Linked DNA regions of Homo sapiens: region 2 is linked to region 1. Evidence: fine-mapped expression QTL. A gene starts in region 1. The other region holds a variant in brackets. All regions are shown on one strand. Distances are from middle to middle. Region 1 holds the start of RBM25 (RNA binding motif protein 25). Region 2 overlaps ZFYVE1 (zinc finger FYVE-type containing 1).

Region 1 (5,378 bases):
TAATGTTCCAGAGCACGAACTCAGGAACCAGACTGGCTCACTTACTATTTTTGTAGCCTTTGATAGGTTAATTTTTGCAAGCCTTGGTTTCTTCATTTGTATCACAATAGTTCTTACTTCAGGGGGTTGTTATGAGGATTAAAGGAGTTGATATTTGCAAAATGCTTTAAACAGTGGCTAGTACCAAAAAAAAAAAAAAAAAAAAAAGGGAGGGGTGACTAAATCATCAGGTTTTGATTAGGTTGTAAGTTTACTCCTGTGTCCTAAGGGGGTCTGGTTAGAGTTGGGACTTCCTATCCAAAGTACATGGATCTGGAGTAGTGGAAGGATGGTTTCTTTTCTTTTTTTTTTTTTTAGACCGAGTTTTGCTCTTGTTGTCCAGGCTGGAGTGCAATGGCGCGATCTCGGCTCACTGCAACCTCTGCCTGCTGGGTTCAAGCGATTTTCCTGCCTCAGCCTCCTGAGCTGCTGGGATTACAGGTGCCTGCCACCACGCCCAGCTAATTTTTGTTATTTTTAGTAGAGACAGGGTTTCGCCATGTTGGCCAGGCTGGTCTCGAACTCCTGACCTCAGGTGATCCACCCGCCTCGGCCTCCTGAAGTGCTGGGATTACAGGTGTGAGCCACTGCACCTGGCTTTTTTTAGACAGAGTCTTGCTCTGTTGCCCAGGCTGGAGTGCAGTGGCGCAATCTCGCCTCACTGCAACCTCTGCCTCCCAGGTTCAAGCGATTCTCCTGCCTTGGCCTCCCAAGTAACTGGGACTACAGGCACACATCACCAAGCCCAGCTAATTTTTGTATTTTTAGTAGAGGCGGGGTTTCACCATGTTGGTCAGGCTGGTCTTGATCTCTTGACCTCGTGATCTGCCTGCCTCGGCCTCCCAAAGTGCTGGGATTACAGGCGTGAGCCACCGCACCCGGCCAAGATGGTTTCTTTTAAAAAATGTGGAGGGTTCATTACTAAAGGCAAGGGGAATGGATGCTGCATGAACATCAGCAACAAATTGTCTAAGGTAGGAAAGTTAGCAAATTGTTGCCTGAGGGCTCCCTTTATTACACAGTAAACACAAATTCATGTACAATGTTTCTAATAATAAAAAGGGACACAGATTAATCTGAGATTTCTGTTTATGCCTTTTGTTGTAAATAGGCACAAACTCTTGGGCGGCCATGGTGGCTCACAGCTTTGATCCCAGCACTTTGGGAGGTCCAGGTGGGCGGATTACCTGAGGTCAGGAGTTGGAGATCAACCTGGCCAACATGGTGAAACCCCATCTCTACTAAAAATACAAAAGTTAGCCAGGTATGGTGACCCACGCCTATAATCCCAGCTACTGGGGAGGCTGAGGCACAAGAATCGCTTGAACTGGGAGGCAGAGATTGCAGTGAGCCAAGATCACGTCACTGCACTCTAGCCTGGGAAACAGAGACACCTCCTCAAAAAACAAAAACAAAACAAAACAAAAAAAGAAACTCATTTTATTTACAAACAATAAATAGCATTATAGAGTAGCACTATAAAAACTATAAATTTGAATAGCACTTTACTGAACAAAGTACAAACATACATAAGTTAATTTCGTCTCCCAAGTAACTGGGACTACAAGCACTCGTCATCACGCACGGCCAAAGGTATTATTAACTTTAGTTAATGGTAAGGAAACCTAGCAAGCAGAAGTATAGAAGGATGTAAATTTTGCAGATGGTAGTAATTAGTGCTACTTTCTCATTTGTGCTCCCACTAAATTTTGTGTTCTATTGGTACTCATCATATGTTAATCATTTCTTTTCTTTTCTTTTCTTTTTTTTTGAGACAATGTCTCACTTTGTTGCCCAGGCTGGAGTGCAGTGGTGCCATCTCGGCTCACTGCAACCTCCGCCTCCAGGGTTCAAGCGATTCTCCTGCCTCAGCCTCCCGAGTAGCTGGGATTACAGGCGCCTGCCACCACGCCTAGTTTATTTTTGTATTTTCAGTAGAGACGGGGTTTTGCCATGTTGGCCAGGGTGGCCTCGAACTCCTAACCTCAGGTGATCCACCCGCCTCGGCCTCCCAAAGTGCTGGGGTTACAGGCGTGAGCCACCGCGCCCGGCCGGTAATCATTTCTGTCACTCAACAAATATTTATTGAGCGCTTGCTATGTACCAGGACCTGTTCTTGCACAAAACAGGCAATCCATGCATTGCTTACATTCACATTCTAGTGGGGGTAGTGACGGACCATAAAATCAGCAAGAAAAATGTATGTTATGATAGATGGTTATGAGTGCTTTAGAGTAAAATTAAGTAGGGGAGGCAGGCAGGAAGTGTGTAGTATGTTTCAATTTTATATTAGGCTGGTCATGGTTTGTCATCTATTTCACCTGGCTCACAGTTCTTGCAGGACAGGAACAAATCTCACTTCCATTTGCCTTCATACTTCCAGCACTTAACACAGCACCAGGAACTCAGGGAGGCAATAACTTTATACTGAATCCGTTTTATGCCTTCCTAGAGGCAAGCAGTTGAGAAAGGCGTGTAACTAGATATTGCCTATAAGGTCCACAATTGGAATAACGTAATCATTTATGATTAATTTTATTCATTTCCATTAACTTAAGCTAAGTTCTTTTAGCACGTTTAGATTACAGAACGAAAGCTGTGTTAACTAGTATTACAGGACTTTTCACGTTTTTCCAAACATCTTCTAGCCACCTCTTTGGCCCTACAACTACGCATAAGCTTTTGCTTTTCAAAAAACCTCCACAGCCTTTGCCAATTATTTGTTGATCTCGAGTAGTTGTTATAACAGCACTTGGGGTTTAACACTAAGGTTGCAGATCGCGCCCAGTTATCAGTTCCTCGAACCTCAAGGAATCACAAAGCAAGGTTCCACCCCCCGAAAAACTACGAAAAGTGAGAAAGCCTCTAACACTCCTCGCGCCGTGCCCAGCCGGAACCTTGACCTCAAGATGGCGTCCCGTAGTCGTAAGATTCAGTCGGCTCCAATCAAACATGGTGGGTCATAATTTACAGTTCGGGCCTTTCTAGTAACCGCTAGACGCTGCTTCTCTATGGTTATTCGTCTCGGCTTGGTGAGTCAGAGCCAACAGCGGAGACGATCTATATACGTTCTTCTCTATGGTTCCGCGCTCCCCGCCCCCGGCCGCAGTGCACGCCGGGCAAGAGGAAGACCTCCATCAGCTCGCCGCGCAGCGCGGCTGTATTTGCGGCCTGTGCGAGTAGGCGCTTGGGCACTCAGTCTCCCTGGCGAGCGACGGGCAGAAATCTCGAACCAGTGGAGCGCACTCGTAACCTGGATCCCAGAAGGTCGCGAAGGCAGTACCGTTTCCTCAGCGGCGGGTGAGTTTGTGTCTCTGAACGCGTGTGGAAACCGGGAGACCGGGTGCCTCAGCTGGTGGAGGAGGAAAAGCCGGGGTGGCTGCGAAAGCGCCAGGGTGGGGTAGAGGTAAGGGGGAGCGCGGAGGCGGGGGTGGGGGAGGGGTCGGCACGAGGCTTGGTTTCTTCTCTTCTCTAAGGCCTGGAAAAGCTGTGGGCCCAGCCGTAGCTGGTGGAGGCCAGACCTACGGCTTGAGCTTTCCGTCTTGCATTGTCGCCCACTTTCCCTTTCCCTTCCACGTTCCGCCGCGGAGTGAATCGTCTCTGCCCCCCCTGGGCTCCACGTTAGATACAAAACGATCGATCTGCCCCAGGGGAGCCCTTCCCTGAGCCCCCTTACTTACCGGAGCCCCACAGTAGGTTTTCGGGCCTGGGACACTCTCGCCCCAGCCGTTGCCTTGAAGTTAGCCTCTACCCACCCTTTTTAGCGAGGTGCTGGCCACCAACGGATATCTTTCCCTTCCTCTTTGGCCATCTAGAGCCCGCCACCAAGTGAACTGGGCCCCACCCCCTTGGAATTGAGCTAATACCTACCTTTTTAGCAGTCTCCTGGCTTGCTTAAGATAGTCATGAATTTTGCCATCCTGCCTCTTTTGCGCATTGGAGGGTGCAGTAAACTGTATATCGCCATTCATTCTAGGCGATTACTAAGCTCCACATTAAAATGTTACTTTCTCATTTTTCTTTGGTCGTCAATCCTGCTTTTAAATACGGTTTTCCGGAATAGACGTAGGACTATGAAGATTTTTCGGAGGTTATGTAATATGGATTTGTATTGCCATGGAAATGCCATTTTGATACTGGGCAGAGTGGAGCCAAGAGAAGGGAAGAGATTGGACCTCTGTTGCACCCTACTGCTGTATTAGTGTGAAGTACTCTGTGTATTAGGCCGTGGGCAGTAATGTATAAATAATTTTTGTATAGTCTTTGGAGCTTTTAATTTTTTTAAAGGCTATTTCCAAAAACATTCAGAGGACTTGAAAGGGATTAAGTTGGTCATAAGTTACTCATGATTCAAGTGAATCTTATAGTATTCTAATTCATTTAACTTAAAGCCTTGGTTTTTCTTTTTCTTTTTTCTTTTAAGCTTTGGTTTTTGTTCCTCTGTAAAATGAATTTATAGTAGTATCTATACGTTATTGGGGTTGGGGATTGAGAAAAACGTATGTAAAATCCTTCGTGCAGTATCCAGGTAACACACATAAGCATTTAAATCTATATTGACATAATTTGTTATTTAAGGATTTTCAATGAAATGTAAGAGTCCAACCCTGACTCTGTAATTTTTTTTTTTGTTTTGTGTTGTTGTTTTTTTTAAGACGGAGTCTTGCTGTGTTGCCCAGGCTGGAGTGCGGTGGCGCGATCTTGGCCACTGCAACCTCCGCCTCCCAGGTTCAAGCGATTCGCCTGCCTCAGCCTCCTGAGTAGCTGGGACTACAGGCGCGCGCCACCACGCCCGGCTAATTTTTGTAGTTTTAATAGAGGCGAGGTTTCACTATGTTGGCCAGAATGGTCTCGATTTCCTGACCTCGTGATCCGCCCGCCTAGGCCCCAAAGCGCTGGGATTACAGGCGTGAGCCACCGTGCCCGGCCTTCTGAATGTATTTTTAAAGTAAAACTAGTCCATGTTAACATTGGGTAACTACTTCAGACCTAACAGGAATTTGGAATTTTCAAGTTATGTTTTTGTCCACAGACAAATTAGCAGTTTACTTTTCTTATTTACACATGATTTAGTGAAAATTTACATTATTTTATAGCTTTGGAAGCAAAGGAATCATTTATCAATCTTAACATCTTGCTAAAACAGTCTGTATTTTAGAGATCTCTTGATTGACTTTTCAAACACTATCACTGCCATTCACAAAAGGGGATTTTTGATTCTTCTTAAATAGCTTTTCTACCTTTTTTTGAAAATTGAAAGTTGCTGAAACTAGAAGAACAAAATTCCACTACCCAGAATTATTGGTATTGGCTTTTAACTTTTTATTTAGACATAATTT
Region 2 (5,378 bases), 61 kb before region 1:
CAGGTTACCCTTTCCTGGTAAAGGACATGAGGAGGGCTTCTATGAGGAGGGCTGGTGTCCTATGGTCTAGCATTGAGTACGCAGGGGCATTCAGGCAGTGAAAACTCATCACATGATACCTTGATATGATACGCACTGTTCTGTATGCACATTACACTTCAAGGAGGAGTCTTTTTTCCCAAAAACCCATTCATTGGAAAAATCTAGATATGCCAAAGCATAAAAGGAAAGAAATTATGTCCTCTGCTCTCACCTACTTCCCGAAAGTAACCACAGCTCAATATTGGCCCTTTCAGACATTTTTCCTACAGACTTAGCAACATATATATGCAACTTGCTCTTTTCTCACTTAATAACATACTGTAAGTACCTGTCCTTGTCACAATACACTCAAAAGCAGCAATACAGTCTTCGATCCTGTGGATATACTTAACTAATCACCTTCCTGATGAACTTTTACAATTCTCTGTACTTTGAAAATTCTGGTCTTTTGTGAGGAAGCTCTGGGCAAACTACCAATGTATAAGGGTATTTGCTTGCCCACACTCTCATCATTTGTCCAGAAACTTGGGCAGCCATAGCACAGATGGATTCAATAAATGTATCGGTGATAAAGGTTGAAAGGACTTTTTAATTTCCTTTTTATTTATTTATTTATTTATTTACTTACTTACTTAATTACTTACTTTTTGAGACGAAGTCTCACTCTGTTGCCCAGTCTGGATGGAGTGCAGTGGTGCAATCTCGGCTCACTGCAACCTCCACCTCCAGGGTTCAAGCGATTCTCCTGCCTCAGCCTCCTGAGTAGCTGGGATTACAGGTGCCCACCACCATACACTTGACTAATTGTTGTATTTTTAGTAGAGACAGGGTTTCACCATGTTGGCCAGGCTGGTCTCAAACCCCAAACCTCAAGTGATCCGCCCACCTTGGCCTCCCAAAGAGCTGGGACCACAGGTATGTACCACTGCAACTGGCTAACTTTTTAATGTTTTTGTAGAGTCAGAGTCTTGCTATTTTGCCCAGGCTGGTCTCAAACTCCTGGGCTCTAGTGATCCTCCCGCCTCAATGTCCCAAAGTGCTGGACTATAGGCAGAAGTCATCGTGCTCAGCCTAAAATACAATAACTTTTCAGGGGCTGGTTACTTCAAAATCCTGAACTGGCAATTAAACCTTCCCCTCACTAAAACTGTAAAGATCCAAAGTGGCATAAAAGTATTGATCACAGGAGGCAGCTGAAAGTCAGCATTTGTCACCTCCTCTCCTTATCTTCGAGGCACTTGCTAATTAATCTGCTCCTTCACTGGGGAACATTTACATGTATTATCTTCTATAGGGCATGTGTCATTGGTACCACCAGAATCAACTGGTGCCAGGTCCTTCAGATTCAACCTCCTTTATGGCCTACTCTGTGCACTTCCCTCCTACTGCCACTGCCCTGGCTGAATCCCAACCACTTCTCACTTGAGTGACTTGATATCCTGCTGACTGGTCCCCCTGCCTCAGTCATCCTGCAATAGGCTGCCAGGGAATCTTTTGAAAATATAGATCTGGCCATCTAACTCTCTGCTTAAGATCCTTCATGGACTCCTGCCATACTTGAGAACTGAGTCAAGGCCACCCATGATCTGATCCCTGAGTCTCTCCATCATTCCCTCCCACACAAGCCATGCTTCAAACATGGCAGTCGGGGTGGCAGGGGAGGGGCTGCATTCAGTGGGCAGGGGGAGAATGAAAAGGGGTAACTAAAGGAGGTCAGAGACAAAGGTAGGAGTTAAAGTGATGGCACTACATTTAGGAGTTTGGATTTTGATGTAGTCAAAAGCCACTGACAAGGCTGCAAGCAGAAGTATACATGATCTGAAGTGTAAATTAAGCTTTTGAAAAGATCACATTGGATGCTACATGGAGAATGCATTGAAGGGAGTTAGAATGGAATTTTGGAAGTTATTGCAGAACTACTTCCCTTGTCTCTTTTTTCTTTCCTTCTTTTTTTGAGACAGGGTCTCACTATTGCCCAGGCTGGAGTGCAATAACACGATCACAGCTCACTGCAGCCTCAACCTCTCAGGCTCAAGGGATCCTCCTGCCTTGGCCTCCCAAAGTGCTGAGATTACAGGTGTGAGCCACCACACCCAGCCCTACCTGCAGTTCTCTGAACGCAATTTGTTCCTTGAAGCTACTAGGAGTTTGCTCTTCCTAGAGCATCTTCTTCCCCTCCTCCATCTAGCCAAGTCTCTCAGAGCTCAAATGTCGCCTCTTCTTTCCTAGATTCCATAAGGTGTAGTGTCCTTGCTCTGGACTCCCACAGCACCGTACCTGTAAGTACGGAGGTATGCACAGAACACCGTGC[G/A]GTCGCCCCAACTAGACTGTGAGCTCTTCAAAGACAGGAAGTGTTTTTTCTGCTCTGTGCCTCAGTGCTCAGCACATGACATATGCACTCAATAAACTTTGATGACCGAATGAACAAGTGAAGATTGCAATTGTTTCAGGAGCCAAATTTACTGCTCCCCTCCTATCTAATCTGTTATTGCACCTTTCCCCCATCCTCCTACCACTCAGGTGACAATCTTGCTTCCTATTTCTCTAAGAAAACAAATAAGAACTTACACACACACGTCCCATGTCCACATCCATCTTCTTATCTGCGACCGTGTCCATATTGTCTACTTTCTTTCCCATTGTTATGGATGAACTGTCCGTGGTCCTAAGGCCGACCCTTCCACTCATGCATCACTCCAACTGTTCCTGCTCTCTTACATCTACATTCTTCCCTCTCTAATGAATCATTCTCATCAGTACATAAATATCTGCAATACGTCACATCTTAAATTTTAAAAAAGAAAAATCCCTTGAAATCCCACATCAGCCTCCAGCTACAATCTCATTGTTCTTCTTTGCTTTACAGAACTCTGTCAAAGAATTGAATAAAGTAATTCTTCTCCTAATCTTATTTTTTTTTTAGAGACATAGCCTCACTATGTTGCCCAGGCTGATCTCTAACTCTTGGGCTCAAGGGATTCTCCCACATGAGCCTCCCAGGTAGCTAGAATTACAGGCACTTGCCACTGTACCTGGCTTCCTCCTATTTTCTCTTGATCTCACTCTGATCAAGCTTTTACCCCCCACCATCTCAGGGAACAGGTCTTATCCAGATCACTAAGGACTTATATATTGCCAAAGCCAATTGGCAATTCTCAATCCTTATGCTAGTTGACCTATAAGCAGATTGACATGTTTGATCACTCCATCCTCCTTGAAACACTTTCTATGTCTTCTTTGGACAGAAATCTTTCTGGGCAATCCACTACCAACAAGTTGCTATTGCAGACCAAATAGCTGCCTCCTTGTACCCATAAAGGTTGAGCTGTGACACTGTACCCCATCTCTCACCAGAGCCCAGTAGCTGGGTGTGCACGGTCTCATGGAAGATGATAACTGCAGGGCCCAGTGTGGATAAAGGGACATCCAGGCCACAGCGAGCAGTGGTGGCCTTGAGCTCCTTGGTGAAGTGCTTCAGATAAGCTTCTGAGGCATCCCCAAGGAATTTGAAGAGGTCGTTATGCAGCCGGTCTGCATGAGTTCGATAGATGACGAGGTCTGAGATGGCCAGGACCTTAAGCAGCAGCCGTGTTCTCTGGCTTAGATTCACGGTGGCCCCCAGGAGCCCTTCCGTATCGATCACTGCTACTTTGTGAACTGGGTCATAGGCTGCCCACACTCCCACAGTGCAGGACTCCTGGGTCGGGGAGGTTTTAAAGACTTCACGACCATAAAAGAAAGTGTGGTTGAGAGTATGAGACTTTCCATCACCAGTATTTCCAAAAATGGAAACCACTTTCAGATGCTGATCAGGTTTGCAGTCCAATTTTCTAATAAAGTCTTCTTCATTTGTTACCTGCAAAAAAAAAAAAAAAGACCATGAAATACAGAAACTGTAAAAGCACTAGAAACACCTACAAGAAGAAGTGCTTCCCAAGGACAAGGAACTTGATTGAATTGTCAAAGAAAGGAAGTCACAGGATAATAGCTCCCCACCTCCACCCTTAGCAAACAGCTCAAAGGAACCTCTGAAGCTTTAGTCAGGGAAATAACTTAGTGGCCAAAAGAGCTAAAACTATAAAAAGAAAAAGAAAAGAAAAGAAAAGAAAAAAACAAAAAAAAGGAGCTAAAACCGTAAAACTCTTAGAGGAAAACAAAGTAATTAACCTTTGTGACTTTGGATTAGTCTATAGTTCCTTAGATAGGACAACACAAGCACAAGTAACAAAAGAAAAAACAGATAAGGCCAGGTGTGGTGGTTCACGCATGTAACAGTGGCACTTCAGGAGGCTGAGGAGGGAGGATCCCTTGAGCCCAGAAGTTTGAGGCTGCAGTGAGCTATGACAGTGCTACTGCACTCCAGCATGGGCAACAGAATGAGACCCTGCCTCAAAAAAAAAAAAGAAAGGGGGGTGGGGCCAAGTGAGGTGACTCAGGAGTCCAAGACCAGCCTGGGCAACATGGTGAAATCCTGTCTCTGCTAAAAATTTTAAAAATATTAAAAATTTTAAAATAATAACTAAATAAAAAGAAAAAATAGATAAATTAGACTTGATCTAGCCAGGAGCAGTGGCTATAATCCCAACACCTTGAGAGACCAAGGCAGGAGAACTGCTTGAGCCTAGGAGTTCAAGTGCAGTCTGGCAACGTAACAAGACCCTGTGTCACTACAAAAAATAAAAAATGAGGCCGGGTGCGGTGGCTCACACCTGTAATCCCAACACTTTGTGAGGCCAAGGCAGGCAGATCCCCTGAGGTCAGGAGTTCAAGACCAGCCTGACCAACATGGACAAACCCCATCTCTACAAAAATACAAAATTAGCTGGGCATGGTGGCACATGCCTGTAATCCCAGCTACTCAGGAGGCTATGGCAGGAGAATCACTTGAACCCGGGAAGCAGAGGTTGCAGTGAGCAGCGATCGCACCATTGCACTCCAGCCTGGGCAACAAGAACGAAACTCCATTTCAAATCAATAAATAAATACATAGCTGAGTGCATGCCTGTAGTCCCAGCTACTGCAGAGGCTGAGGTGGGAAGATGGCTCAAGCCCAGGAGTTGGAGGTTACAGTGAACTGTGATCCAGACTGGATGACAAAGTAAGACCTTGACTCAAAAAAAAAAAAGACAATGAAAAGACAACTTACAGAATGGAAGAAAACATTTGTAGATCAAATATCTGATAAGGAGCCAGGCATGGTGGCATCCATTTGTAATCTCAGACACTCAACAAGGCTGAGGCAAGAGGATCACTTGAGCCCAGGAGTTTACAGCCACCCTGGGAAACAGTGTCATCCGCCTCATTAAAATAAACAAAGAGGCGGGGCATGGTAGCTC

What was found.
Region 2: its variant is fine-mapped to the expression of RBM25 in whole blood (TOPMed, PIP above 0.99).

The regions. Positions count from the first base shown.
Region 1 is chr14:73,055,367-73,060,744 of GRCh38, forward strand. RBM25 (RNA binding motif protein 25) reads left to right here and starts at 3,168. Exons shown (of 19, transcript NM_021239.3): 1 at 3,168-3,339. RBM25-AS1 (RBM25 antisense RNA 1) reads right to left here and starts at 4,087. Exons shown (of 2, transcript NR_184256.1): 1 at 3,910-4,087; 2 at 1,464-3,391. RefSeq lists enhancers at 2,445-3,409, 2,481-3,680, 2,733-3,272.
Region 2 is chr14:72,994,418-72,999,795 of GRCh38, forward strand. ZFYVE1 (zinc finger FYVE-type containing 1) reads right to left here. Exons shown (of 12, transcript NM_021260.4): 3 at 3,394-3,898. Among named protein-coding and RNA genes, the nearest start is that of ZFYVE1, 30 kb to the right of the region's middle. RefSeq lists a silencer at 3,451-3,651. The variant G/A (reference allele first, on the strand shown) is at 2,354.